Linked DNA regions of Homo sapiens. The protein of the gene in region 1 interacts with the protein of each later gene in a biochemical or structural test. Each region holds a gene or a part of one and is shown in the gene's direction. Other genes may lie near its edges. The genes, in order: DLG4, CACNA1A, ARHGEF7, PLCB1, SLC15A2, CCDC134 and KCNJ1.

What was found.
Region 2: the proteins of DLG4 (region 1) and CACNA1A interact in a test that uses a peptide from one of them, tested with the Homo sapiens proteins (one large-scale study listed by IntAct).
Region 3: the proteins of DLG4 (region 1) and ARHGEF7 interact in a test that uses a peptide from one of them, tested with the Homo sapiens proteins (one large-scale study listed by IntAct).
Region 4: the proteins of DLG4 (region 1) and PLCB1 interact in a test that uses a peptide from one of them, tested with the Homo sapiens proteins (one large-scale study listed by IntAct).
Region 5: the proteins of DLG4 (region 1) and SLC15A2 interact in a test that uses a peptide from one of them, tested with the Homo sapiens proteins (one large-scale study listed by IntAct).
Region 6: the proteins of DLG4 (region 1) and CCDC134 interact in a test that uses a peptide from one of them, tested with the Homo sapiens proteins (one large-scale study listed by IntAct).
Region 7: the proteins of DLG4 (region 1) and KCNJ1 interact in a test that uses a peptide from one of them, tested with the Homo sapiens proteins (one large-scale study listed by IntAct).

What each region holds. Positions count from the first base shown.
Region 1 is NC_000017.11:7,193,628-7,197,911, reverse strand, and holds part of DLG4 (disks large homolog 4), read left to right. Parts: intron 1-859; coding exon 860-1,155; intron 1,156-1,336; coding exon 1,337-1,439; intron 1,440-1,577; coding exon 1,578-1,692; intron 1,693-3,416; coding exon 3,417-3,593; intron 3,594-3,911; coding exon 3,912-3,948; intron 3,949-4,040; coding exon 4,041-4,068; intron 4,069-4,197; coding exon 4,198-4,245; intron 4,246-4,284. UniProt on the Homo sapiens protein: Postsynaptic scaffolding protein that plays a critical role in synaptogenesis and synaptic plasticity by providing a platform for the postsynaptic clustering of crucial synaptic proteins.
Region 2 is NC_000019.10:13,496,066-13,500,349, reverse strand, and holds part of CACNA1A (voltage-dependent P/Q-type calcium channel subunit alpha-1A), read left to right. Parts: intron 1-4,284.
Region 3 is NC_000013.11:111,271,761-111,276,044, forward strand, and holds part of ARHGEF7 (rho guanine nucleotide exchange factor 7), read left to right. Parts: intron 1-2,053; coding exon 2,054-2,192; intron 2,193-2,970; coding exon 2,971-3,030; intron 3,031-3,771; coding exon 3,772-3,918; intron 3,919-4,284. UniProt on the Homo sapiens protein: Acts as a RAC1 guanine nucleotide exchange factor (GEF) and can induce membrane ruffling. Functions in cell migration, attachment and cell spreading. Promotes targeting of RAC1 to focal adhesions. May function as a positive regulator of apoptosis.
Region 4 is NC_000020.11:8,733,610-8,737,893, forward strand, and holds part of PLCB1 (1-phosphatidylinositol 4,5-bisphosphate phosphodiesterase beta-1), read left to right. Parts: intron 1-3,418; coding exon 3,419-3,583; intron 3,584-4,284.
Region 5 is NC_000003.12:121,900,721-121,905,004, forward strand, and holds part of SLC15A2 (solute carrier family 15 member 2), read left to right. Parts: intron 1-4,284. UniProt on the Homo sapiens protein: Proton-coupled amino-acid transporter that transports oligopeptides of 2 to 4 amino acids with a preference for dipeptides. Transports neutral and anionic dipeptides with a proton to peptide stoichiometry of 2:1 or 3:1.
Region 6 is NC_000022.11:41,803,089-41,807,372, forward strand, and holds part of CCDC134 (coiled-coil domain-containing protein 134 isoform 1 precursor), read left to right. Parts: intron 1-4,284. UniProt on the Homo sapiens protein: Molecular adapter required to prevent protein hyperglycosylation of HSP90B1: during translation, associates with nascent HSP90B1 and the STT3A catalytic component of the OST-A complex and tethers them to a specialized translocon that forms a microenvironment for HSP90B1 folding.
Region 7 is NC_000011.10:128,837,035-128,840,707, reverse strand, and holds the end of KCNJ1 (ATP-sensitive inward rectifier potassium channel 1), read left to right. Parts: intron 1-443; coding exon of another isoform or gene 444-464; coding exon 465-1,583; 3' UTR 1,584-2,688; downstream 2,689-3,673. UniProt on the Homo sapiens protein: Inward rectifier potassium channels are characterized by a greater tendency to allow potassium to flow into the cell rather than out of it.

The sequences.
Region 1 (4,284 bases):
TTGAACTTGAAACTGATCAAGCCTCCAGAATGAACTGCCAGTTTACAGGAGATACAGGGGCAGAGGCATAGGCTAAACAAACCACAGGAGGGTAAGCAGTAATTTCCCTGTTAGAATTTCCCTCATAGGCTGGTCAAGGTGGCTCATGCCTGTAATCCCAGCACTTTGGGAGGCATAAGCGGGTGGATCATTTGAGTTCAGAAGTTCCAGACCAGCCTGGACAACATGGTGAAACACTGTCTCTACTAAAAATACAAAAATTAGCTGGGCATGGTGGCGCGCGCCTGTAATCCCAGCTACTTGGGAGGCTGAGGCATGAGAATCACTTGAACCTGGGAGGCAGAGGCTGCAGTGAGCCAAGATCACGGCACTGCACTCCAGCCTGAGACTCCTTCTCAAAAAAACCCCAAAAAAACAAAAGAATTTCCCTCATAGAATGTGGGAAATTCTTTTAGACAAATGACCTAGTTTTTTCAACGAATGGATGGCAGAGAGGTGGGGGGAAAAAAGAGGGAGAAGAATTTTATGGATTAAGAGATTCGAGTGACACAGGAACCCAGAGAAAACCCCCAAAGCGTAATATTAATGCTCCCTTTGACTTCCCCATCCCTGGCATACTGAGGACATATAACGTTCAAATCCTTTATCCCCTAGGACAACCAGCCTCTGATGTCACCTATAAATTCCTGACCCCTGATGTCACTGTGATCTGATATCCCCTTACCACCCCACCCTGGCATCTCTGGCAGAATATCTTCCCTTCCACCTAACTTTGGCTCTTCTGGCACCCTGGGGAGAAGGTTGGGTGGCGGGTGCTGTTTCCCTCCAGGCACTTTCATCTCTGCCCTGTCTTCCTCAGCTTATTCCCAGCACCTGGACAATGAGATCAGTCACAGCAGCTACCTGGGCACCGACTACCCCACAGCCATGACCCCCACTTCCCCTCGGCGCTACTCTCCAGTGGCCAAGGACCTGCTCGGGGAGGAAGACATTCCCCGAGAACCGAGGCGAATTGTGATCCACCGGGGCTCCACGGGCCTGGGCTTCAACATCGTGGGTGGCGAGGACGGTGAAGGCATCTTCATCTCCTTTATCCTGGCCGGGGGCCCTGCAGACCTCAGTGGGGAGCTGCGGAAGGGGGACCAGATCCTGTCGGTGAGGGAAGGCCTGCCCCTACCTGCACCACCCCCTCCCCACAGGGCAGAGCGCAGAGCTCTTGGGGAGGGGCCTGGATGGGCTGCAGCCGAGTCCTCTTGCGGGACCACTCCCTGCTCCACCTGGACCCAGAAGTGCTGCCTCCTGTCTCTGGTGACACAGCCTGTCGTCCTCTCTCTAGGTCAACGGTGTGGACCTCCGAAATGCCAGCCATGAGCAGGCTGCCATTGCCCTGAAGAATGCGGGTCAGACGGTCACGATCATCGCTCAGTATAAACCAGAAGGTACCAGGCCGGAAGTTCCTTGTCTTGTGAGCTGAAATGGCCCTTAGAACTCTTCCTCAGCTGATGGCTTCAGTAGGGGAGGACAGGGGTGACAGTAGGATGGGGACAGAGCTCAGAAACCTCCCTGTCCTTCCTCAGAGTACAGCCGATTCGAGGCCAAGATCCACGACCTTCGGGAACAGCTCATGAACAGCAGCCTGGGCTCAGGGACTGCGTCCCTGCGGAGCAACCCCAAAAGGGGTTTCTACATCAGGTCAGAGGCTTCCCGGGCTGGACTCCTCAGCCCCTCTGCGTTCCTGGGCACTCTGTGCCTGGCCCGGGCCTCAGCCGCTCCTCTTCTCCACCCTGCCTGCTCTAGCTCCCCACCCCAGGCCTGAGGCGCAGCCAGGGTTCATGGGCTTGGCTGCACAGGTTAACATTTGAAATACTCCCTGTCGATGGGAAAATAGCCTCTGCCCCAAGTATCCCAATTGCCTTCTAGCCCCTGGTCATCCCAGCACTTCCCCGGGACTCCCAGGCCACCCCACAATTTGGCGTCTCGAAGGTTAATGCTTGGTGAAGCAGGGTCCTCTAGGGTATTTGGAGTGTTGCCCCAGCCTTCACGTCCCTGTGGGCAGTCCCGGAGACGTGGGCCGCAGCTCTGTGGTGCCTGCCCCCGTCTCTCCAGCGGCATTTTGCTCCCCTCTTAGGGCTCGTCTCCATTGACTCTTTTTGTGGCTTAGGTTTCTGCCAAAACACACCTCTCTCCCGCCCCCGGGGGTCACCCCTCCACTTCTGTCCCTGTCTGGCCCTGTGGCTTGCATGGCCTCGTCTGCCGCTGCGCTCTGCAGATGTCTCTCGGAGGTGCTGGCCCTGGCTGACCTATTTCCAGAGGTCAAGACCTGCACTTCTGGCCATTGGCTTTCTGGCCATCTCCACTGGGATGTCCCACAGGCGTCCCACACTCAACATGTCCCACGCTGAGCTCATCATCCTGCTGTGGGCCTGGGTTCCATCTTGCTGTGCCAGCAGTTTCCCTCTTGTTGGATGGCATCACCAGCCACCCAGACACTGGCTCCCACCTGAGCCCTTGCTCTGCCCTTCCTCCCTGCTCGGGTCCGGTTGGTCCCCAAGGTTGTTCTGACTCCCAGTGACCACAGAGGTTGTGTAGTGGCTCCCAGGCGGAATGTCATCTGGTTGTCACACTTCCAGGGGGCCCGGGGTCTCCTCCCTCCTCTCCAGGCCCATTGCTTTCTTCTGTGTCTTCATTACTTCCCTGGTTCTGACCCCAGGGGTTGTGACTTACTGATAGAAATTTGATACTGGTAAGGGTAACCATTATTTGGAAACACGGGACATTTTCTTTTTCTTATGAATTTGGGCAGATTCAGGGTTACCCCTGTGACTTTATGATGTGCGTGTGTACTGCACACTGCTTTCTGTTTTTCTTTTTCTTTTTCTTTTTTTTTTTTTTTGAGACGGTGTCTCGCTCCGTTGCCCAGGCTGGAGTGCAGTGGCGTGATCTCTGCTCACTGCAAGCTCCGCCTCCTGGGTTCATGCCATTTTCCTGCCTCAGCCTCCCGAGAAGCTGGGAATACAGGCACCCGCCACCGTGCCCGGCTAATATTTTGTATTTTTAGTAGAGACGGGGTTTCACCATGGTCTCAATCTCCTGACCTTGTGATCCGCCCGCCTTGGCCTCCCAAAGTCAGCTGGGATTCCAGGTGGGAGCCACCACGCCTGGCCCAAACTGCTTTCTTGAGAGGGTCAAGTTCAAGCCCTGCCTCTGGAAACTGTGCTCAGTGTGGACTGAGTGATGGCTAATAGTTGTTATGAGTTATAGTCAGCGTTTGGTCCCCACACAGTTTTGGGTTCCTCGGCATCCATAGCTCCCATGGGAGTGCCATCTGCAGACCTCTGGGCCGGGTCTTTGGGTGACTGGGGCATCCTTCCTGGAGTCCTCAGCTGGGCTCTGACCGATAGCCACTTGCCCTCCAGGGCCCTGTTTGATTACGACAAGACCAAGGACTGCGGCTTCCTGAGCCAGGCCCTGAGCTTCCGCTTTGGGGATGTGCTGCATGTCATCGATGCTAGTGATGAGGAGTGGTGGCAGGCACGGCGGGTCCACTCTGACAGTGAGACCGACGACATTGGGTTCATCCCCAGCAAACGGCGGTGAGGCTCCTGGGCTCTGTAGCCTTCCTGCCACAGGCACTGAAGTTCCCAAGGTCCCCCGGGGTGGGCAGCCAACAGGGGATGGGTTTGCCCTCTGAACTCCTAGGGGTTTGTCTGTTGGGCCCTCCTGGGGTCCGTGGCTCCCATGAGCCTTTGGGAAGGACAACTCCTTATTGAGGAGCACAGTGTCCAGGGCTGCAGGAGAAGGGGTGTCAGCTGGCCCAGAGTATGGAGAAGGGGTTGTCAGCTGGCTCAGAGCATGGGGGTGGCAGGGGGTAGGCATTCCCCTACCCGCGTATCCCTCCATGTATCCCACAGGGTTGAGCGACGAGAGTGGTCAAGGTTAAAGGCCAAGGTAGGTGGAGGAGGGTGTGAGCCTGGGTGGAAGTGTGAGGGCTCATGGAGCTGAGCTCATAACTAACCCCGTGGCCTGCTTTTTCTTCTTAGGACTGGGGCTCCAGCTCTGGATCGCAGGGTAGGTAGGGTTAGTTCGGGAAGATGTGGGTGAGAGGAGCACTGAGTTGCTTTTGATATCCTCAAGGGGGAGACAGGGCTCCAGGTCCCCTGTTTCAGAGCCCCTTGCAGATGCCCCACCTCCCACCAGGTCGAGAAGACTCGGTTCTGAGCTACGAGACAGTGACGCAGATGGAAGGTGAGCCCTGGCCCCTGCCTTGGCCCCAGCACTTGCTGC
Region 2 (4,284 bases), on another chromosome or scaffold:
TTCCCCAGGAAAAAGTCAAGCTCTGAGGCTGTGAGACCCATGATCTTTACCCTGTTCTTCACCACTGCAACCCCAGTGTGTGGGACAAAGCAGGCGTCCTATAAACGTTTGCTGAGCAAATGAGAAAAGGTACCTGTCTTCACCCATTAACTAAATTGTATAACATCTATCTGATCTACCCTTGTGCCAACGTTTTAGGATTTTGATGGGTTTTAGTTGCAGGGGGTTGAGAGACTGTCCATGAGATTATCAGACCAATGAAAGTTTCTGAAATGTTAGTGCTTGAGTAGATTGGATGCAGCGGCCCCTTGAGAATGAAGTCTTTCTTCAGGGACTTGGAGTGGGAGGCATCTGTTGGGTGCGTAGGGCTTATGCTTCCCCCTCCCTGTTTCCCCCCCAGTAGCAAGCACACATATACACTTTCTCAGCAATAAAAAGCACCGCCGGGAAGGTGGACTCCATCCAGAAATGATCAGAGCCTAAGAGCCGTGCAGTAACGCATTTCCGAGAATGCCAGCTCAGCTCCTGAGAAAAGGGCCGGATGGGATGGTGCCTGCTCTGAAAGAGGGCAGAGAGGAGAGGGAAAACACTCCGGACTCTGGGTCAGACTGGCCCAGGTTCACATTATTCACCAGCCATGTTATCTTGGGCACCAGAGCCTATTTCTTGACATGCATGATGAGGATATTCCTTCTAGTAGCATCTCCCTTGGAGGGCTCTCAGGAGATTAAATGGGGTCGTGCGTGAAAAATGGCCAGCACAGTCTCCAGCACAGAGAAAAACCCCAAAACGCCAGAGCCGTAATACTATGGAGTCATTTAGGTTCCAGTGTTCTTTTTTTGGAAACCGGCCAGAAAAGAGGCTTTCTGGGTGGGAATGGGAGCGAAGTGCCCCCCCCCACCACCCCCTGCGACTGGTCAGTGTGGATTGATTAACCTGATCGTGGCGCTCTTTAAAGCCACCTTTGGACATTTTGCATTCTCCGTTCTCTCTGGAAGCTTTCAGGGGAAAAAAAATTCGTGGCCACTTGACCCATTTTTCTATTCCCTTGAGTCTAAGGTAAAAATTAATTCTCTTTCCTCCTTTGGTCCCTCCCTCTCTCTGTGGGTGACAAGGTGAGGGAGTTTTAAAGTATATAATTAGCTTCCCTCTTCCCCTTTTGCACTCCCTGTCTCTTCCTTTGGGGCCGGTCGAGAGTGCAGCCCAGGATGGCCACCCCAGGTGTCCACTGCAAACTCCACAGAAAAACTTTGCTCAACTTTTGGTTTAGAATTTAGGTACCCCCCTCCCCTTCCAAACTTTGGTCTTCTTTCTCCTCACTCCCTAAAAAAATAGGAAAAACAAGGAACATTCCTGGCGAGGGAACCATGAGTGGGCACAGCAACTTAGGTTTCAAAAACCACTGGGCCTCAGTTCTTATCTGAGTAGGGTGACCCTTCAGCCAGGGTTGCCTGGGACTATCCTGGGTTTAGCATCTCTGGAAACTCACAGTCCTGGGCAAACTGGGACGCTGGTCACCCTAATGGTGAGTTCTTAACACCTGAGAGAGAAGAATGGTGCAAGAGATGGTGCCGTTGACCAAGAAAGGGGGAGAGTCAGTTACTTATTCCCTCTGAAAAGCCAAGACTTTTTATTGGAATGAATGCAGCTTTTAGAAGCCGTCTTTAAGGCAGCTAATACAAGAGAGATTCCAGCTATGAAGGGAAATGCCTGAGTTAAGTCCGGATCAAGTTTTGACATCTCGCTTCGGTCAGACACGGCTTTATCTGCCGTTCAGACTGGGAGCAGCCGTGAGTCTTCCTTAAAGGTGCCTGTTGCTCAGGCGGCACCTGCAGTTAGAAATTAGCAGCCTCCCACCCCCAGCCCCCAAATAACAGGATTCAAGAGTCCCCTCTCTGAAGCCATGAGGGAAACCCAACTTAGTCACCCACTTGCCAGTAAATAATATTCATGCTGTTAAGTTCTGTTCTCATTTTAGGCCTATGTGTAAAAAATATATGTAATTTTAAACTGATTTTTAAAGTATTTTCATACGAACAGCATTTGCAGGAGGGCGAAGTCTGGATGTTACCTTTTTGTAAAAGTGGATGGATTTGTCTTCAATGAGACTCTGGGGCAGACTTAAAACTTGGCCCGCAGTGGTGTTACATGGATTCTGATCTTCCAGAGTCTGTCACGTTCTTTTATCTCCATGATCTTTATTATCTTCTTTATTGAGAATGATGGGCATGGTGTGTGTGGGTGGGAGGGCTATGCTGACCATCACTGCAGTGAAATGTGTTCGTGGCATGTTGTGGCGTCTGCATAGGAATGTGTCTGTTTGATTAACAGCACAAGCAGTGGAGGCTGTAAGGAGGAAAAGAGGAGGGAAGGTGATATTGGATGGAGGGGAGACATATAGAGCTTGGGAACAGTCCACCCTGGCTGCAAATCTCAGCTCCAGCTCACAGTTGTGGAGCCTCAGTCTTCTCCTCTGTAAAACGGGGACAGTAGTCCTATGTCCGAGGAATTGTAAGAAGGTTAAAAGATACTGTACCCAGAAAGCACATGGCATATATAATCATCCTGTGAAGTAGCCAACTCAATGAATTTTATTTTATTTATTTTGAGTCAGAGTCTCACTCTGTCACCCAGGCTGGAGTGCAGTGGCATGATCATGGCTCACTATAGCCTCGACCTCCTAGGCTCAAGCGATCCTCCTGCCTTAGCCTCCCGAGAAGCTGGGACTATAGGCATGCACCACCGTACCCAGCTTTAACAACATAAATTTATATATATATATATATATATATATATATATATATATATATATATATATATATATATATTTTTTTTTTTTTTTTTTTTTTTTTTTTTTTTTTGAGATGGAGTTTCATTCTTGTTGCCCAGGCTGGAGTGCAATGGCGCGATCTCGGCTCACTGCAACCTCCGCCTCCCGGGTTCAAGCAGGACGATGGGCATTTGGGATGTTTCTAGTTTGGGGTGGGGGATTGTTTGTTTGTTTGCTGTTATGAACAATGCTGCTGTAAGGAATCAATAATTTTGAATGAATGAATTCGAGGTGTTAATTTTAGTCTGTGTACTTGGAAATCTAGCTTCACCTAGAATCAGCTGAGATTCATCAGCATTTATGGCAGGAGCTAAGACATTTCACAGCTTACTCATCATTTTCTCTAAGAGGCTGGGTCAACCGGTTAGCTCTTGGTCCTGCTTGTATTCTGAGAGTCAGAACCTGTGGTTTAGACACTGGCAATTGATATGGTTGTAGAGAAGCAGCATGGTTGAGTTGAGAGCATGGATTCTGGAGCTAGGTGGCTGGGGTTCAAATCCCAGCTCTACTAGTCACTGGCTGCGTGATCTTGGGCAAGTCACTTAAGTGTTCTGTGCTTCAGTTTCCCAGTCTGTCCCAGTGGTGATTCTAATAGCTCCATGGGGATCCTAATAGCTCCTATCTGGGAGGATTAAATGAGTTAATACATCTGATGTTTAGAGTGGTGCCTGACACTTAGGAAGCACTATATGTGTTTATACATGGAAGAGTGGATAGATGGATGGACTTATGTGGGTGGCCATATTTGGGCTTCTCTGATCCACTGCTGAGAATAGTGTGTGGCACACAGTAGGTGCTGCATAAGTGTTAATATTCTGCTCTTTCTTGCCAAGTCTCTCAACTCCCTTGATCTCTGTTATTTTTGGCGTCTGTGTTGTTAACCCATTCTTCTGAATGATCAGCTGAATCACTGTTGCTCCAATATATAAGCCAAGGAGAACACAATCACAAGGTCTCATTGATTGTCCATACTAGAATTCCATGATTCCTAGGCCCAAGTAGGATTTTCCCCACGTCTCAGCAATCCTTCTTCCATGTTTCTAATCTTTTTCTCTCATTTGTTATGCCCCATTGCCAGACTCTCCAATCTCCCCACAGCTTCCCCTTCCTCTAACTATACTGTCTCTAGTCTTACCTTCTCCCTAAGGGCACCGTCTTTGAAGACATCAAATACTTCAGAGCACCAAATATAGGTTAGCTTCTCTGAGGGCCTTACAAGGACATGGAGTGTTTGGGTCTTACACAAATTGGAATGGTCAGAAATGTTTAGAGACTTGAGTTGTCTTTGAAAGAGTTGTCAGAATGCAAATTTTTGACTTGTGGCCTGTTTCTGATCACAACGCAGTCTTTTAAGTTATGGATCATAGCTGGATGTTTGTGGTTTAGAGGGGATGGAGGCATCCTCTGCAGTTAGTGTTGGATGTCTGGGTGGATGGATGGATGGATGGATGGAT
Region 3 (4,284 bases), on another chromosome or scaffold:
GAAGCCTTATATATGGAGTTGATAAAATGTTTCTTGTCTTAATTTTTTTACAAGTGGATATATGCAACATTACCCTTTTTTATAATTTGCTTTAGTATTGATAATATCTGTTAAGTGTGTATATGTATGTGTTTATTGGAAGTATTTCTTGTTGGCAAGGGCAGACAGAGGTGCCGCACCCACATCGTTACTGTTTTTACACAGCATAGGACTGCACCCTGGCCTTGGTTAATGAGACCACCCTGGTTTTGTAGAAAGCGTTGAGATGTAAGTGGCCTTCTCAGAAGGTCTTACGTGCTTAGGAAGTGGAAGGCTGGTTTCCTAATGACTGTTTGGTTTTCAGCATGGTGTTTGAATCGGTTTCATTGGAGGACATTCTCCCTGGCTGCCCTGGCAGGGGATCCACATGGAATAAGGAGGGTGAGAAGCGGGAAGGGCTGGCACCACCCTGGCTCTCAGTCCTCCTTATGGGAAGCTGTGTTTAGGTTGAACTCTCTGAAACTGTTAATGTTCACTATTTGTGGACTCAGTTTCCTCTGGGTTAGCCAAAACACTGTCTGTCTTTTCCCCGGGAGCCCTTGATGGTTCTGGTGTCCCCGAGACCTCTGGCAGTAGCCAGCTTGGCTGGGGTGGTGCGGTGGGAGGCTCCTGTGAGACCAGAACCGGAAATTGGCTTGTTTCTCAGTTTTGCTGTTAGGATTTTCATGTTTATTTTAGGACATCGTTTACATAATGAGGATATAAAAGTATCTTTTCCTTTTAAGGGAAAACCTCTAGACTAGGAAAATTTGTTCCTAGGATTTGTGCCATGGGTATCATTTGAACCAAGCTCTGCTGACTAGAGACCCCTATCTTCTAGGATGGGGCGTGGTGATGGGGCGGGGGTCACCTGGGTCTCCTGGATGGGATGTGGTGACTGAGAAGTCATCCTGGTCTGGACCTGGCATCGGCTGCCAGCGCTGGTGCTGCCTCCCCTCCTTTCTGTGGGCTGTACACTGTCAGATGTGTGGACTGATGGCACATGCAATTTGAGGGACAGCAGACCCAGGGCCTGACAGAGACCTCAGAGATCGCCAGTGAAGGGGTGTTGCGGTCAGGTGACTGTCAGCCTTAACAAACGTGTGGGTGAAGAGCTGGACCCCCCACAGAAGCCTGCCCGTGTCCTCTGCCACAGCCATGGGAACTCTGAGGACAAAGATGACACACATGAGGACCCACTGTAGGGAAAGATAGGCGAGGCACTGTGAAGGGGATGGTTGAAGAGGAATACAGAAAGTTCTAAAACTTGTTTCTGACTCTTTAATTTTGGGATATGCACTGTTTCTATGTCCATACACAGGGACACCTTCCTTCCTTACGTGTTGTGAGGATTGAATGTAACAATGCTTTTGAAGTTCTAAAGCGTAAATCAACATTCGCTGTCTGCACACAGGGACCCCTTTCTTCCTCACGTATTGTGAGGATTAAACTTAAAGCTTTTGAAGTTCTGAAGCCTAAATCAGCGTTTGCTCTCTTCTCTTGCTGCTTCTCGTGCTCCTCACCCCAAGAGCCATTGCCTACTCCCAGGCTGAGTGCTGGCAGCACATAGGTGGGGCCTGCTCGCTGGACGAACTCGCATCTGGGGATGACTACCATCAGTGTGCTCTAGCTCTTTACCGGAGCAGCTCGGTCCTTGTTCTACCACCTTGAGACTCTGAGATTATTGGAATCCATTCTGGCTCTGAGTGTGCATGTTTCCATTGGATATGTCTGCATGGCACTGATGTGCTGGAGGACCTCGCCATCAGTAGGATCTCATGGAGACCCACATGTCCTGTGCTGTGTATAGTTATTGTTGCTCATATGAGAGCAGGAACGGGACCCCTTAGGGATGGGAGTCCCCTTTGGCATTTCCAGATAAGCAGCGCAGATTTGGGATAAAAGCTGGAGCCTTCCAGATGTTAAAAGCAACACTTATGTTTCATAAATTCTGGCTGTTGCTCATGGAGATGAGAGAGCCACCATTGTCTCTCATTGCTAACCACGAGTGTCTCTCTTGCCACTTGCTGCCCAGTGAGGAGTTGGGGGAGTTCATGGAGACCAAAGGTGCCAGCAGCCCTGGGATTCTCGTGCTGACCACGGGCCTGAGCAAACCCTTCATGCGCCTGGATAAATACCCTACGCTGCTCAAAGAGCTCGAGAGACACATGGAGGTACTGCGCTTTCATTCTCTTACTTGGAGTCCTTACCAAGGGTTAGTGGCATGGTCAGACTTACTGTGAAAGAAAGTATTATTCATGATTTATTTTAGAAGCCAGAACCAACAGAGTTTACAAAGAGTTTTGTTAAATATTATGTTTTTCTCCTTATTCCAGCTCTATTAGAAAACATTTACCCCTTATCTCTCTTTTACCCACTGCTGCTGATTGAAAAGTTTCCAAAAGCTGAAACATGAGAACTGATTTTCAGATAGTGTTGAGATGTCTTACCTGGATCATCCAGCTACAAACAATGTGTGCATAGGTTATAGGGTAATACTGTACTAATCATTTGATGAATGATTGTGCTCTTTTAATTTTGAATAACAGGTTGCAGCCTAGCAGAAATTTGGGTTGAAGTTACTCTCTTGGCTTGAGTTGGCAAACCTTTTCTATAAGGGGGCAGACTGTAGGGTCTTCTTCACGGCTACACAGCTCTGCCATTTTAGATACTGTATGTGAGCCGTGGCAGTGTTCCAATAAGACTTTATTGATGAAGCAAGTGTTGGCTTCCCCACCCCTGCTGCTTGTGACTGTTCTCTTCCAACTTATATTTCCCCAAAGTCTAATGGCTTCGTGATTTGCTGAAAGACTGACACTTTAATGCTGAGGGAAAAAGGGAATGTTAAGGGTTGAAAAGTGTTAGAAAAGTTTCAAGCTGGTCTGTAGAAAGTACCTTTTTAAGAAAAGCTTTTCCTTATGAAAGCTAATTGTATGTTTCTTTTACTCAAAGGATTATCATACAGATAGACAAGATATTCAAAAATCCATGGCTGCCTTCAAAAACCTTTCAGTAAGTGATTAAGCATATTGTTTTCCCCCCCAGACATTATTGTGACAAATGAATGTAAAAGAATTATCAACTGAAAAAGTCAAATGATTAAAAAATGACTTGTGCTGACATGAAAGAAAAACAGAGTCGGCATTCTGTGGCTGGTAAACTCCTTTTAGTGGACTATGATAGAATAATTATTTAAATTTTTTAAAGTCACTGTGTAATTGATGTTAGATCTACTTTAAAATTGTTTAAAACATTTTTTTACCCTTCATTCATGTTGTCTTTAATGATTTATTGCAAAACAGAACAATGGTGGTTCCATTTTCTCTGCTGTTGTGTTGTCTTACCAACTGCGTTTTGGAAATATATGGCCTTATTTTATAGCACAAGTTATACTTTCTGTTTCTTCTTTTCAGTCTTCCATATTGGCAAACACGAACAAAACCAGAATGAAAATACAGTTCTTGTCCTGTCCACATTTCTTTTTTGTACAAGTGGCAAAATGTGCTCTATCTTTCTAAAATAATACTTAGTATTCCAGAGCAGTTGTGTGTGTTGCTTCTCTTAACTTGGTTTCATACTTCTAAGCAAATACTTTCAATTCCCTATAATTAAGCAAATCGCTCAATAAATTATCTGTCTGAAGAAGTAAGATATAAAGCAATAATTGTCTTAAGGATGATACAAAGCAATGTGGCCGGAACTTAACATTCTGAAAGTTTATGTCTGTTAACAGTGTTGTTCTGTGTCTGTCAGGCCCAATGTCAAGAAGTCCGGAAGAGGAAAGAGCTTGAGCTGCAGATCCTGACGGAAGCCATCCGGAACTGGGAGGGCGATGACATTAAAACTCTGGGCAACGTCACTTACATGTCCCAGGTCCTGATTCAGTGTGCCGGAAGTGAGGTACTGCTGCCCACATGCACGCACCAGGGTTTCTGTCCCACTCTTAGGAGCTCATAGCAGAAGATTTTAAAGGCATCTCAAGCGATGAAAAATGTCTAATAGAAGCTCTATCTTATAATTTGTGAGCTACTTTTTATTCTTGACACAGGAGAGAGGCTTATGGCATGTTAGAGAGGCTTAGAGCTGAGTGTGGACTTGTTGATCAGTTTGATCCAGCTGAAGTCAGTGTGGCCCGAAGCCCACGTGAACTGAAGGATAGATAGTGTGCAGAAAGACTTGCAGGAGTCCTGTGCACACATCCGCATGGAGCTGTATGCGCTTATCTGGCCAGCAACTTTGTACCAAGGCTCACTCTCACAGGGACCT
Region 4 (4,284 bases), on another chromosome or scaffold:
AGGGGAACATCACACTCTGGGGACTGTTGTGGGGTGGGGGGAGCGGGGAGGGATAGCATTAGGAGATACACCTAATGCTAAATGACGAGTTAATGGGTGCAGCACACCAGCATGGCACATGTATACATATGTAACTAACCTGCACATTGTGCGCATGTACCCTAAAACTTAAAGTATAATAATAATAATAATAATAATAATAATAATAATAATAATAAAAGTTTTGGTAGGGTCGGGCGCAGTGACTCACGCCTGTAATCCCAGCACTTTGGGAGGCCGAGGCAGGTGGATCACGAGGTCAGGAGATCGAGACCATCCTGGCTAACACGGTGAAACCCCGTCTCTACTAAAAAATACAAAAAAAAACAATTAGCCGGGCGTGGTGGCGGGCGCCTGTAGTGCCAGCTACTCAAGAGGCTGAGACAGGAGAATGGCGTGAACCTGGGAGGTGGAGCTTGCAGAGAGCCCAGATCGCGCCACTGCACTCCAGCCTGGGCGACAGAGCGAGAGAGCGAGACTCTGTCTCAAAAAAAAAAAAAAAAAAAAAAAAAGTTTTCATAGGCCACATGAATAAGATAAAGCGACTGAACTTTATTCTTAATGATAAAAATCTGACTCTAAATCAATAAAATGAGTTGGAGAGACTCATCATAAGCAAACCTCTTTTTTGGTGTAACTAACCTACTATGAAATTTACATGATAATTAGTGGCCCATATTGGAGAGATTTTCCGGTCTTTTTTTCCCCGTTTGGTTCTTAGAAAATTAGAGACAGAACATTCCCTCAATAAATTATCAAATGTTAAACAAAAGCTTTCAAATTACTTTAAATGGTTTTTGAAAATCTTCCAGAGTATTCAGAGATTTTAAAACACATATTAATGATCATTAAATAAAAGAGTTGCTTTATTAAATATATATGTATATATACATGTATGTCATAAATATATAAAAATCATAGATATATACACATACATATGTATATCTGACCCTAAACAATTCTAAATTTTTTTAGTCTTTGAAATTGATTTTATATCAGATATAATTTTTTAGCTACCAGAAAATATTTTTAATACTATGAAAGGAAAATCAATTTTTTAGAATACATTTTACATGGATTCTTCATCGTTAAAGCTTTTCAAAAATATTGTCTGTTTTCTGTTTAACTGAATAACTATAGAACTAAGAAATTTTTTTACTGGACATAAATGTAATTTTTTGATTAACCTTAAACAAAGGCATTTGAAAAACTATGTAAAAAGCTTTCTATAACAGCTTCACTAATTTCTTTCTACCCTAAGCAGTTGAGCACATTTTTACCTTAAAACTTTCGTCACTTTATATCAAGGGTTTAAAGAATAAAATTTCAGTGAAGTGTCTCATAATTATATCTTTTGAAATTACTTCAAGCCACATGTATAAAGAGTTCAAGTTGGCAGAATTAGAGTTTATTTTAGGAAAGTATTTTCAGAAAAGGCTGTTTAATTCCTGTCAGGTGTGATAAAGATAAACTCATAAGCTCCATGTACTGATAGAATGCTACTTTTAGAATCCTTGTCAATTGTTGTTATAGTTCGGTTGAATTAATAATATTTTTGCTTTGCTTGCAGATTCGTCTTGTTTTGAATGTATTTGTTTGCTTATTTCTTTTTTTGTCTTGAAAATCCTACTGTGACAGTAAGCAATTATAAAACAATGACACAGAGGCAGGAAAGTACATTGAGTTGTGAAGGGGAAATAGTTGATCCCCAGACAAGTGTAACCTGCTGCTCCTGTCCAGAATGGAGACGCTGCTCCAGAGCTGTCAGTCTCCCCTGAATGGACAGTTCTCACTGCAGTAGAGTCCTACCTTTGACATTATAGCTAGAGCCAAGATACAGATCATAACTTTCCAATTATGCCTTTGTTTTCATCTTCTGGCATAGATTTTATAATGCCAGAATGGACTTGTGAGCTCACATGATGTTCTACCGTCCTATGTTACTGACGAGAGCATTGTGGTTTTGGTGTCATGAATTTAGTTTAGGACTCTGCTTTGGTCAAACATCTTAAACATACAACATCTTCTGTGCATCTGAATTCCAAGTAGGACTTGCATAACTTAGAAGTTTCAAACATGTTTTGAAATGCTTGCTTATTTCATAGACATAGTTCTCACATAGAACCTCAAGTTAAACAAAGAGATTGTTGCTAGCAGGTCCCATGCACTCAAGCCAAATAGAACATACAGGGGAAATGAGTTGTCCCAGGGCAAATTCAGAGAGCCTTCCTGATGACTTTCTCTCTGAATTACTCAGAATTTCTGACAACATCAGCATATAGCTGACTTTGACTTTACTCAGCCTTTGATAGCTATTCTCATGCCACCATTTTGTCTGATTTCTGGCCCAGCCATAATTCTGTCCCCTTTCACAATCTTGAGCTCAGATTGTGAGCCCAGCCATAATGCTGTCCCCTTTTCACAATCTGGAGCTCAGAAAGTTCTTGACCAGCAGGCAATTTTCTTGTAACCACATAACCCAGATTCACCAGGTTTGCTCTGTCAGCACTTGCTTCCTGCTTTCCCCTTCCTGGTATACAGCAGAAGCACATCTTGTTTGCCTCCGCTAACCTTTATGACAGCTGGTGGATAGTTCAGATTTTGAAAATTTGCATAGAAACAGAGGCAGACATGGAAGACATTTATAAATACGTAATATTAAAAATCTCTTTTAAGTCTATAATATCCATTAGTTCTGTAGCTAGACAAAGATGGTGACACCTTGTGAGATTAGGGGTAATGATAAACTTATCTTGATGGTTTAAAGTGAATACTTGTTCATTTATTCCTCCTACAATACTGTGTCTTATTAATTGACTACTTCTAACCTCACCATTTTCAATATCCTTCTACCAACCTGTGTTTGTCCATTTTCACACTGCTATAAAGAACTACCTGAAACTGAGCAATTTATAAAGAAAAGAGGTTTAATTGACTCACAGTTCTGCATGGCTGAGGAGGCCTCATGAAACTTACAATTATGGTGGAAAGTGAAGGGGAAGCAAAGCACACCTCACATGAAGGGAGAAGAGAGAGAGTGAGGGGGGAACTGCCACACACTTATTAAACCATCAGATCTTGTGAGAACTCACTATCATGAGAACAGCATGAGAGAAACCACTCCCATAATCCAATCACCCTCCCCAAATATGTGAGGATTACAATTCAACATGAGATTTGGGTGAGGACATAGAACCAAACCATATCATAACCCATTAAGTGAAAGGGAAATCATATTTCTACTCTTGCTTCTATTCCATTTTGCTTATAATTCAACATTTGCTGAAGAGCATTTGTGGCTCTTTAAAGTATTCTCTTATGTCTTTGTTATTTGCATATCAAAATTCCTTATGGATTGATTGATTTATTGATTTTCTAGATTATTTCAGGTCAGTTTCTTTCTGATAAGAAAGTTGGGACTTACGTGGAAGTAGATATGTTTGGTTTGCCTGTGGATACAAGGAGGAAGGCATTTAAGACCAAAACATCCCAAGGAAATGCTGTGAATCCTGTCTGGGAAGAAGAACCTATTGTGTTCAAAAAGGTTGGTCACATGTTCTTGATATGAGTTATAACTGCATTTTTCAGGTGTTTTACACTGAGAAAATAATGAAATGGTGAATTATTTGTTATTTAATTTGAAAATTTACACACTTATAAAGCAATTACCTTTTGAAAGCCATTCTGAAAACCCTTCAAGAATTCTGTTAATCACTGGTTTGGATTTTCAGAATTGTATTGTAAATCAATTCATTCTAGTATGCCTCAAATGGACGGCCATAAAAACATATACATTTAACTCATATCATCTGATAGTACAAATGATAAATGATACATTTTAATTATAACTCAAAGAAGTAGAGTGGAAGTAGGGAATAATATAGTGGCTGAGATAAAGAAAATTCATATTTCCTTTAAAAGGAATATTATTTAAATTCCCCAAAATCTCTAGCCTCTGAGAGCTGGTCATTCAATCTTGTCTGGGTTCTATCTAATAAAGTTGAAACCTTTCACACTCAACTGGGCCCTTCTCTTTCTTCACCAAAAAGCAAATCTTCACACATGCTTATCATGTAAAGGAAGAAAGTAGGTTCAGTGGGAAGTAGACTTTTTAGCCTACTCTTTGCTTTTTTCTGGCCAAAATATCTACAAATCCAGTCTTCTGCAAAGAGAATAGCTATGCGGAAACTCTCTGTGCTCTGGGATTTTTCCATATGTTAACTGAGTTTAATAATAATGCTTACT
Region 5 (4,284 bases), on another chromosome or scaffold:
CCCCGTAAGGCTCACTCAAATACCACCTATGCTATGGAGTATTCTCTGCCCCCTCACCTTTTACTATAGCTGGAAGTAATATAGTGTTTTCTGAGTTCTTTGTTTTCTCACCCTTATATGACATTTACTAAACTCTATCTTATTATAGTTATTTAATTATTTATATATGAATCTGATATCTTCTTTCAAACACTTAGAGGACAAAGTCATTTATATATATTTTTCCCCACCCACCCCAGTCATTTATATATTATATGAATGTATATAATATGTATAATATATAAGTATATATATAATATACATATTTTTTGTCGTTGAGGCAAAGTCTCGCTCTGTCACCCAGGCTGGAGTGCAGTGATGCAATCTCGGCTCACTGCAACCTCTGCCTCCCAGGTCCAAGCGATTCTCCTGCCTCAGCCTCCTGAGTATCTGGGATTATATGCATGTACCACCATGCCCGGCTAATTTTTGTATTTTTAGTAGAGATGAGATTTCACCATGTTGGCCAGGCTGGTCTCGAACTCGACCTCAAGTGGTCCACCCACCTCTGTCTCCCAAACTGCTGGGATTACAAGTGTGAGCCACTGTGCCCGGCTGTGATTTATATTTTTATCCAAGAGCACGTAGAATAGTGCCTAGCAGATAGGCCCACAGTAAATCTTCGAATTCATAAATTTATTCACCCTCAGACCCTCAAATGTAGCCACATGACTGCAGATAGATGTAGACAGGCATGAAGGTTACTTTTATTTTATTGTGGGTATTTTGGTTGCTTTTTAAATAAGAAAACTTGGGGGTGATTTGTATCTCTTTCACAAAGGGAGTAGTTTGAGAAAATGTGGGTAACTTGTTCTCCTGTAGTCATGTTTGTGTGTGTGTGCGTGTGCATGTGTGTGTAACATATACAAACAGATGATAACAGCAACAAAAGGGAATAAGTATTTAAAACTACCCTTCCTTAAGTTGGAAAATCAGAAAAAAGACAAGACTCTTCCTTTACTGTCTTTTCTAATTTGAACCTGTAGCCTATTTTCTTCATTTGCTAGAGGAAAATGGATAGATTTTTGTTTCAAACCGTTAAGTTCTTCCCCACCTCTCATATGTTTCTCTGCCTGAGTATGTGTTTGTGTGTGTGTGTGTGTGTGTGGTGTGTTTACTTTTATTCACGTGTTACTTTGAGGGTGAAAAGCCTTCTCTAACATTAGAAAGATTGTTCAAACCCTGAAGGGGCAATTTCCTGAAGTTAGTAAACAACTTCTATTAAAAATCTTTCCTCTGTTTGCTATCCCAGAATAATAGATATGTTAAGAGGAAATGGGCATCCAGAGTCCCTGACTCTTGTTTAAGGAACTCCCTATGCCAGGAAAGAAGTGAGGCTTCCTTCAGAGCTACATACAGGAAAGACTAATCAATAGGTACGCAGTGGGAAAACAAAAATTATTAAACATGCATATTGGTTTCTCAAGGATGCTATTTGTAGTGTCAAGTTGGTTTTAAGAAAGGAAAACATTTTTAGTCATAGTTCCTAGATTTTATATCCTATTACCCAGGCTCATCAGTTTTGATTTTTGACCTGGGCAATCACTTAGAACCACTCTCTTAAACGTGTTTATTATTTTTTTATTTTAATTTAATTTTAATTTTTATTTTTTATTATACTTTAAGTTCTAGGGTACACGTGCACAACGTGCAGGTTTGTTACATAGGTATACATGTGCCATGTTGGTTTGTTGCACCCATGAACTCGCCATTTACATTAGGTATTTCTCCTAATGCTATCCCTCCACCAGCCCTCCACCCCATGACAGGCCCCCATGTGTGACGTTCCCCGCCTGGTGTCCAAGTGTTCTCATTGTTCAATTCCCACCTATGAGTGAGAACATGTGGTGTTTGGTTTTCTGTCCTTGTGATAGTTTCCTCAGAATGATGGTTTCCAGCTTCATCCATGTCCCTGCAAAGGACATGAACTCATCCTTTTTTATGGTTGCATAGTATTCCATGGTGTATATGTGCCACATTTTCTTAATCCAGTCTATCATTGATGGACATTTGGCTTGGTTGCAAGTTTTTGCTATTGTGAATAGTGCTGCAGTAAACATATGTATGCATGTGTCTTTATAGTAGCATGATTTATAATCCTTTGGGTATATACCCAGTAATGGGATGGCTGGGTCAAATGGCATTTCTAGTTCTAGATCCCTGTCTTCCACAATGGTTGAAATGGTTGAACAAGTTTACAGTCCCACCAACCAGTGTAAAAGTGTTCCTATTTCTCCACATCCTCTCCAGCATCTGCTGTCTCCTGCCTTTTTAATGATTGCCATTCTAACTGGTGTGAGATGGTATCTCATTGTGGTTTTGATTTGCATTTCTTTGATGGCCAGTGATGATGAGCATTTTTTCATGTGTCTGTTGGCTGCATAAATGTCTTCTTTTGAAAAGTGTCTGTTCATATCCTTTGCCCACTTTTTGATGGTGTTGTTTTTTTCTTGTAAATTTGTTTAAGTTCTTTGTAGATTCTAGATATTAGCCCTTTGTCAGATGGGTAGATTGCAAAAATTTTCTCCCACTCTGTAGGTTGCCTGTTCACTCTGATGGTAGTTGCTTTTGCTGTGCAGAAGCTCTTTAATTTAATTAGATCCCATTTGTCAATTTTGGCTTTGGTTGCCATTGCTTTTGGTGTTTTAGACATGAAGTCCTTGCCCATGCCTATGTCCTGAATGGTAATGTCTAGGTTTTCTTCTAGGGTTTTTATGGTTTTAGGTCTAACATGTAAGTCTTTAATCCATCTTGAATTAATTTTTGTATAAGGTGTAAGGAAGGGATCCAGTTTCAGCTTTCTACATATGGCTAGCCAGTTTTCCTAGCACCATTTATTAAATAGGGAATCCTTTCCCCATTGCTTGTTTTTGTCAGGTTTGTCAAAGATCAGATGGTTGTAGATGTGTGGTGTTATTTCTGAGGCCTCTGTTCTGTTCCATTGGTCTATATATGTGTTTTGGTACCAGTACCATGCTGTTTTGGTTACTGTCGCCTTGTAGTATAGTTTGAAGTCAGGTAGCCTGATGCCTCCAGCTTTGTTCTTTTGGCTTAGGATTGTCTTGGCAATGTGGGCTATTTTTGCGTCCATATGAACTTTAAAGTAGTTTTTTGCAATTCTCTGAAGAAAGTCATTGGTAGCTTGATGGGGATAGCATTGAATCTATAAATTACCTTGGGCAGTATGGCCATTTTCACGATATTGACTCTTCCTATCCATGAGCATGGAATGTTCTTCCATTTGTTTGTATCCTCTTTTATTTCATTGAGCAATGGTTTGTAGTTCTCCTTGAAGAGGTCCTTCACATCCCTTGTAAGTTGGATTCCTAGGTATTTTTTTCTCTTTGTAGCAATTGTGGATGGAAGTTCACTCATGATTTGGCTCTCTGTTTGTCTGTTATTGGTGTATAAGAATGCTTGTGATTTTTGTACATTGATTTTGTATCCTGAGACTTTGCTGAAGTTGCTTATCAGCTTAAGGAGATTTTGGGCTGAGACAGTGGGGTTTTCTAGATATACAATCATGTCATCTGCAAACAGGGACATTTTGACTTCCTCTTTTCCTAATTGAATACCCTTTATTTCCTTCTCCTGCCTAATTGCCCTGGCCAGAACTTCCAACACTATGTTGAATAGAAGTGGTGAGAGAGGGCATCCCTGTCTTGTACCAGTTTTCAAAGGGAATGCTTCCAGTTCTTGCCCATTCAGTATGATATTGGCTGTGGGTTTGTCATAGATAGCTCTTATTATTTTGAGATACGTTCCATCAATACCTAGTTTATTGAGAGTTTTTAGCATGAAGGGCTGTTGATTTTTGTCGAAGGCCTTTTCTGCATCTATTGAGATAATCATGTGGTTTTTGTTGTTGATTGTGTTTATATGCCGGATTACGTTTATTGATTGGCATATGTTGAACCAGCCTTGCATCCCAGGGATGAAGCCGACTTGATCATGGTGGATAACCTTTCTGATGTGCTGCTGGATTCGGTTTGCCAGTATTTTATTGAGGATTTTCACATTGGTGTTCACCAGGGATACTGGTCTAAAATTCTCTTTCTTTGTTGTCTCTGCCAGGCTTTCATATCAGGATGATGCTGGCCTCATCAAATGAGTTAGGCAGGATTCTCTCTTTTTCTATTGATTGGAATAGTTTCAGAAGGAATGATACCAGCCCCTCTTTCTACCTCTGGTAGAATTCAGCTGTGAATCCGTCTGGTCCTGGCCTTTTTTTGGTTGGTAGGCTAT
Region 6 (4,284 bases), on another chromosome or scaffold:
GGGCAACAAGAGCGAAACTCCGTCTCAAAAAAAAAAAGTTATCTGGGCATTGGTTGGGGAGTGTGCGGGAGTCAGTTGGGTAGAGGATCACTTAAGCCCAGGAGTTTCAGGTTATAGGGAGCTATGATTGTACCGCTGCACTCCAGCGTGGGTGACAGAGCGAGACCCTGCCTCAAAAAACCCCAAATACCTTTTAGCCACATTTGAGCAGCAAGGGAGGTTTGGAAGGAGTGGCTCTCAAGGTATGTCTACCTGGAGTTCATTGTTAAGTTCAATTTTGGCTGTTCCATAGGCATTTGCTGTCATTGCAAACTTCTGGGCCAGCATTATTCTGTCAGGAGTGATACTTCAACAAAAATTTAAAAAGTAATAGGTATAAAGTTTAAAAAGAAAATAGGGCTGGGCACGATAGCTCACCCCTGTAATCCTGGCACTTTGGGAGGCCAAGATGGCCAGATTGCTTGAACCCAGGAGTTCGAGACCAGCCTGGCCAAGATCATGAAACCTCGTCTCTACAAAAAATACAAAAATTAGCCAGGCATGGTGATGCACACCTGTAATCCCAGCTACTCGGGAGGCTGAGGCAGGAGAATCACTTGAACCCGGGAGGCAGAGGTTACAGTGAGCCAAGATGGTGCCACTGCACTCCAGCTCGGGCTACAGAGTGAGACTCTGTCTCCAAAAATAATGTAAAATAAATAAATAGGAAAATAGGAAGTAATAGCAATGTGATAATCTCAGTTTGCATAATAGTTCTGAGAGGCCCACCGTGGTGGCTCACGCCTGTAATCCCAGCACTTTGGGAGGCTGAGACGGGCGGATCACGAGGGCAGGAGATGGAGACCATCCTGGCTAACATGGTGAAACCCCGTCTCTACAAAAAATACAAAAAAAATTACCCGGGCGTGGTGGCGGGCACCTGTAGTCCTAGTTACTCGGGAGGCTGAGGCAGGAAAATGGCGTGAACCTGGAAGGTGGAGCTTTCATTGAGCCGAGATTGCACCACTGCACTCCAGCCTGGACGACAGAGCCAGACTCCTACTCAAAAAAAAAGAAACGAGTAAGAGTCTCAAAATGATATGGAATCTTGTTCCAGTGTCTTCGGAAAAGCTATCTACAGTATGAAACCATCAACTTCTTATCCTGGTTTGCAGTTTGAATGTCTCTGGTTATGGCATTGGGATGTTTGGTGAACTTCCTGTGTGACCCATACATTAGGCACAAGGCTTGTACCTTAAAGTTCATCTAGTTTCAACTTACAGGGCTTCAGGAACAGAGCAGTGCCAATTTTTAATAATTTCATGAAAGAAAGTTAGATTGGAGGAATCTAGAATTCAGGAGCTAGTCCAGTATACAAGTAGATAATGAGAACTCAAAAACAATGCACAGGGCTGCAGTCTAATAACAGATGTACTATAGCTTTTTTTAGAAACAAAATTTTCTCTTTACAGTGATCACATAGGAATAACAGATTTAAAAACCATTTAAGGCTAGGAAGCAAAACCAAGGCAGACTTTAGATTTTACTTAACAGTCTTAAGGTTCCTGGGCCTGCCAGGAAGTGACAGATTTTACTCATTCACTGTAAGGCTGGGAATCTTTGAAGGCAGGCTTTCTATGTACATTCTCAAGTATGATATTCTAGTTAAAGCCCTGGTAATATAAGCAATATTTGTTGTATTCTGTTATAAGAGAGAACAGGCTGGGCACAGTGGCTCACGCCTGTAATCTCAGTACATTGGGAGCCCAAAGTGGGCAGATCGCTTAAGGCCAGGAGTTCGAGACCAGCCTGGCCAACATGGTGAAACGCTGTCTCTACTAAAAATACAAAAATTAGTCAGACATGGTAGTGCTCGCCTGTGATCCCAGTTACTGGGGAGGCTGAGGCGCAAGAATCACTTGAACCTGGGAGGTGGAGGTTGCAAGATCTGAGATCGTGCCACTGCACTCCAGCCTGAGCAACAGAGTGAGACTCTGTCTCAAAATAAAAAAAAAAGAGAGAGAGCAAAGTCTTACTGGACTTTTGCAAATAACCACATTGCCGTAAGAATACTCATGAATAGACCAGCATGGTGGCTCACGCCTGTAATCCTTTCACTGTGGGAGGCCATGGCAGCCTGATCACTTGAACCCAGGAGTTCAAGATCAACCTGGGAAACATGCCCAAACCCCATCTCTACTAAAAAATACAAAAATTAGCTGGGTGTGGTGGTGCATGCCTGTACTCCCAGGCCCTTGGGAGACTGAGGAAGGAGAATTGATTGAGCCTGGGAGGTCAAGGCTACAGTGAGCCATGATTATACCACTGTACTCCAGAGGGAGACCCTGTCTAAAAAATAAAAAATAAAATAAAAAAAAGAATACTTTTCTTGAATAGTTTTCAAATTTTAGATGGGTTAAATAGGGAGAAAAAGTAAATGTTTCCACCTCTCTTTACAAAAGTATTTCTTATGGAATTGCTGTAAACTATAGATAGCTTAAGAGAAAAAGTTTCCTTAAATTTAGAAAACAAAACAAGTAAAGAACCAATAATATTCCAAATATATGTCATAAACACATTACTCTGGCAGGGTGGCTCATGCCTGTAATCTCAGCACTTTGGGAGGCCAAGGCAGGAGGATTGCTTGAGCTCAGGAGTTTGAGACCAGCCTAGGCAATATAGCAAGATCCTACCTCTACAAAAAGATTTTAAAAATTATAATAGCTGGGCATGGTGACATGTGCTGGTAGTCTCAGCTACACAGGATGTTGAGGTAGGAGGCTTGTTTAAGCCCAAGAGGTTGAGGCTGCAGTGAGCCTGGATGACAGAGTGAGACCCTGTCTCAAAAATAAATAAATAAATACAGAAAAGAAAAGAAAATTATCTTCATCAGTTTTTAATTGAGTTCTGTTTGATTTTGATTAGAGATTTCAGGAATTCATCAGTTTCTTCATTAGAGTTCTGAAAATTCTTTATTTAGTCCATAGATCTTAAAGTTTTTAAGTTTTTAGAAACTTGTATTTAAGATTACTTGTTAGAGTCTTCTTATGAATCTGATTGCAAATGCTCTTAGAGAAGAATCAGAACCACAGATGACAAAGACTTGGAACAACCATGGTTGAAAATCTTTTTTTTTTAGGCGACTAATTTTTTTTTTTTTTTTTTTTTTGATTCGCAGTCTCGCTCTGTTGCCCAGGCTGGAGTGCAGTGGTGCGATCTCGGCTCACTGCAACCTCTGCCTCCTGGGTACAAGCGATTCTCCTGCCTCAGCCTCCCAAGTAGCTGAGATTACAGGCACATGCCTCCACGCCCGGCTAATTTTTTTTGTATTTTTAGTAGAGACGGGGTTTCACTGTGTTAGCCAGGATGGTCTTGATCTCCTGACCTTGTGATCCGCCCACCTCGGCCTCCCAAAGTGCTGGGATTACAGGCATGAGCCACCATGCCTGTCCCCATGGTTAAAAATCTAATGGAAGTTCATTATAATCAGCAGTGGACAAGGAAATTTGTCAATTTGTTATTTATGTGTCGCAAGCAATACAGAAGGTTACCAGGGTGTAAAAACAAAAAAATCTTAACCCTTTCATAGCTCAGGTTTTATGAAAAAGTTGTGAATTTCATCAGACACAGGCAGAGTGTGTCCAAGGTTATGAGTTTCCATCATATTATAGTGGAATGTAAACAAGAAAACTAGTACCAGCCAGGCACGGTGGCTCACGACTGTAATCCCAGCACTTTGGGAGGCTGAGGCGGTGGATCACCTAAGGTCAGTAGTTCAAGACCAGCCTGGCCAACATGGCAAAACCCCGTTGCTACTAAAAATACAAAAATTAGCTGTGTGTGGTGGCAGGCAACTGTAATCCCAGCTACTCGGGAGGCTGAGGCAGGGAGAATCGCTTGAACCCAGGAAGCGGAGGTTGCAGTGAGCCGAGATCGTGCCATTGCTCTCCAGACTGGGCAACAGAGCAAGACTCCGTCTCAAAAAAACAAAACAAAACAAAAACTAGTGCCTTCAACTGGGGAATACCTGGCTCTTAGTTAAAAGCATGAGAAATTTCCTGGTTAAATGGAACAATTCAGACACATCAAGAAAAGCCCGAAGTACAGAATCAAGTTATACTAGAGGAAAACATTGTTTTTCTAGGCCCTCAAGACAGAATATTTGAGTGTCAGGCCGTAACAGCAGAGTTAGAACCAGAGAAAAAAGCTATAGTAGCCGGGTGCAGTGACTCACACCTGTATCCCAGTACTTTGGGAGGCCAAGATGGGTGGATCACTTGAGCCCAGGAGTTCAAGACTAGCCTG
Region 7 (3,673 bases), on another chromosome or scaffold:
TCAAAAACATACATAATGCTTCAAGTTTGTGATTTCTCAGAAATTATTGCTTAACATAAGGCTAAACTTATGAGAAGGTGATTTAAGTAATATTCAATAAATAAAAATACAGGTCATAATTGGTTATTACAAACATATTTAAGGTTGTGTGAGACTAATTGAGGTCAGGAAACACTTGAATATATAATCACTTAGTTTGTCTTCATTTCTAGCTCTCTGTAATTATTTTGCCTCTTTATGTTTGAGTAACATGGTCTTCCAGTGGAAAGTTTCTATCAGAAATAGCATTGTGGTATCCAGAATAAACTTGTCAGCTTGCCAAATGATTAGTAACCCAGATAATTTTGAATGATCTTTTCGTAGTTAGGTCTTTCATGTGGGTCACCTAGTTCACTATTGCTATAAACATAATCCTTTTTTGTTTTTCTTTGATGTGTTTTCAGATCAGGGTGTTGACAGAAAGTATGTTCAAACATCTTCGGAAATGGGTCGTCACTCGCTTTTTTGGGCATTCTCGGCAAAGAGCAAGGCTAGTCTCCAAAGATGGAAGGTGCAACATAGAATTTGGCAATGTGGAGGCACAGTCAAGGTTTATATTCTTTGTGGACATCTGGACAACGGTACTTGACCTCAAGTGGAGATACAAAATGACCATTTTCATCACAGCCTTCTTGGGGAGTTGGTTTTTCTTTGGTCTCCTGTGGTATGCAGTAGCGTACATTCACAAAGACCTCCCGGAATTCCATCCTTCTGCCAATCACACTCCCTGTGTGGAGAATATTAATGGCTTGACCTCAGCTTTTCTGTTTTCTCTGGAGACTCAAGTGACCATTGGATATGGATTCAGGTGTGTGACAGAACAGTGTGCCACTGCCATTTTTCTGCTTATCTTTCAGTCTATACTTGGAGTTATAATCAATTCTTTCATGTGTGGGGCCATCTTAGCCAAGATCTCCAGGCCCAAAAAACGTGCCAAGACCATTACGTTCAGCAAGAACGCAGTGATCAGCAAACGGGGAGGGAAGCTTTGCCTCCTAATCCGAGTGGCTAATCTCAGGAAGAGCCTTCTTATTGGCAGTCACATTTATGGAAAGCTTCTGAAGACCACAGTCACTCCTGAAGGAGAGACCATTATTTTGGACCAGATCAATATCAACTTTGTAGTTGACGCTGGGAATGAAAATTTATTCTTCATCTCCCCATTGACAATTTACCATGTCATTGATCACAACAGCCCTTTCTTCCACATGGCAGCGGAGACCCTTCTCCAGCAGGACTTTGAATTAGTGGTGTTTTTAGATGGCACAGTGGAGTCCACCAGTGCTACCTGCCAAGTCCGGACATCCTATGTCCCAGAGGAGGTGCTTTGGGGCTACCGTTTTGCTCCCATAGTATCCAAGACAAAGGAAGGGAAATACCGAGTGGATTTCCATAACTTTAGCAAGACAGTGGAAGTGGAGACCCCTCACTGTGCCATGTGCCTTTATAATGAGAAAGATGTTAGAGCCAGGATGAAGAGAGGCTATGACAACCCCAACTTCATCTTGTCAGAAGTCAATGAAACAGATGACACCAAAATGTAACAGTGGCTTTTCAACGGGAGTAAAGCAAAGTCTCTAAAGCTCCTAGTACCTAGAAGCATTATGAAGCAGTCAACAATTTAGGGGTACGAAAGTAGGATGAGAGCCTTCAAAGTCTACCAGCACAAAGACCCCTGAGCCCCGCAATTGTGATCCCACAAGACATGCATCTCCACAAGGCTACTGTATTAGAACGTGCAATGCATTTATATGAAACTGGTGTATGGAAGACATAGGTGCTCTCTTGAAATCTTAAATATGATTATTTGAGCTCATATAAGGTGGATTGGAGCAGATAAAATTATCAAAAGTTTCATGAACAGGCCAAACAAAATATTTTTTAAAGTTTCCTTAAAGAAGTTATGAACTTTAGAAAGGATCAGGGGACAATAATAATCTCATTTTGATTCTACTGATAAGAATGACTCCACTTTTAATGTGGACTTTTACTCATGGAAAAATTGTCTCCTAATTTGGGGAGATGAACCAACCAATCAATGACAAGAAAACGCTTACACAAAGAACAATTTGAGGCTCTAAGCTTCTCATGTGGTACGTTTAGACAGAGGCTAAATCTGCACACTAGAATCTTGATGATACCTTCCTGCAAGACAGAATGCTTTAGTTAAAAGTGGTGATGATATTTCTTTCAATCTGTATTGGATGGCTTAAAGGGCTATAAATCTGTTTATAAAGAGCATTTCCTGCTCTTCGAAGACAGCAATGAGGAGTTGGAAGGTGCAAAGTCAGTAGAGAAGGGAATGTATCATTAATGCACCTGAGAAGAAACAGTTTCATGTGTTCCTCCACCTAGAGTTTGTACTGGAATGCTATTTCTAAAGAAGAAGTGGGAAAGAGAGAGGAATGGGATGGAGCCCCACAGTCAGAATGTTACTATGTCTTTCTTTCCCTGACAGCCCATCTTCCTAAAAGGGACCAGCTTATGGAAGGCTCGACCTTGAGGGGAAAGTTTTACTGTGAAAGTCTTCTTCAGATCCCCACCTGCATCATTCCGAATGTGTCCTGGAAAAAAACTGGTACTCAAAGCTGCTTAGGAATCAAAATGTTTTCAGTGTGTTGATTAATATAGTAAATTTCTGAAACTGTGCATGCACTTTGATTATTATTATTACTATGCATTAACTGAGTCAGGTTCCAGGTGAAAATCCTCTTGCAGAGAGGACCCTCTCCTGGAAGGGGCGGGAGGAGTGGAGAGGAAGCAGATAGGACACATTTGTTGTCTGGAGTCCTCAGGAGGAAATGACCCTGGCCACAGACACACCCCTTCCGGTACAGCTCCATCACGCCTCTCCAGTGTGAGTCTTGGCACATAAAACGGCAGCTGCCCACAGTTGTTGGGAGGGATGGCTTATGTTTTTCCATGCCTGGGCTGTATTTGTACAGATCCATGCACCACTCTGGTCCTTCTGACTAAGAACAGTGGGAAGTCTGATGGTTTTAGGGTTGCACACCTTGTCAGTGGCCATAACAGTGGCCATAGCTGGCCCATGTGGAACTCTCACTCTGTACCTGTGAGTGCTTTGGCACCACAATTTAATGTGCTGACAGGAAAAAGAAATCAGGTATCACAAGCTTGAGGGAGCTGGAATTCTCTGCTGGCCCACTGTCATGATGTAGCCCCTTCATAAACTGGAGGGAAACTGTGTTGACACTTGTTCCCATCAGCATGCACTCTTCCTGGTGTATTCTCCTGCTGGCTGGCAGCATGCATGTAGATGGCTGGAAGTGAGATGGTCATAAGCAATCCATTCCCTTTGATTGTTTAGGGAGGTGAACAACATACATCTTTCTGATTGGTATTTACTTCTGGGTTATTTGGTGGAGGCCCATCTGCTTCTAAATATCCCTTTGCTAGGATCAAGACACTCTGCACCTGGAGTCTCTTTTTTAATGGAAATTCCCATTGACCCTCTAGCAACCATTAACACAGGTACATCCAATTAAGCCCCTAGGAAAAGAGGCCTGGAACAGGTAACTTTTGATAGGTCTAAGGAGTGGCTGGAACCCCAAAGCGCATAACACTCCTGTGCATTTTAAGAAAGGGGGTAACAAGGGAATGGGTGCTCAAGTAG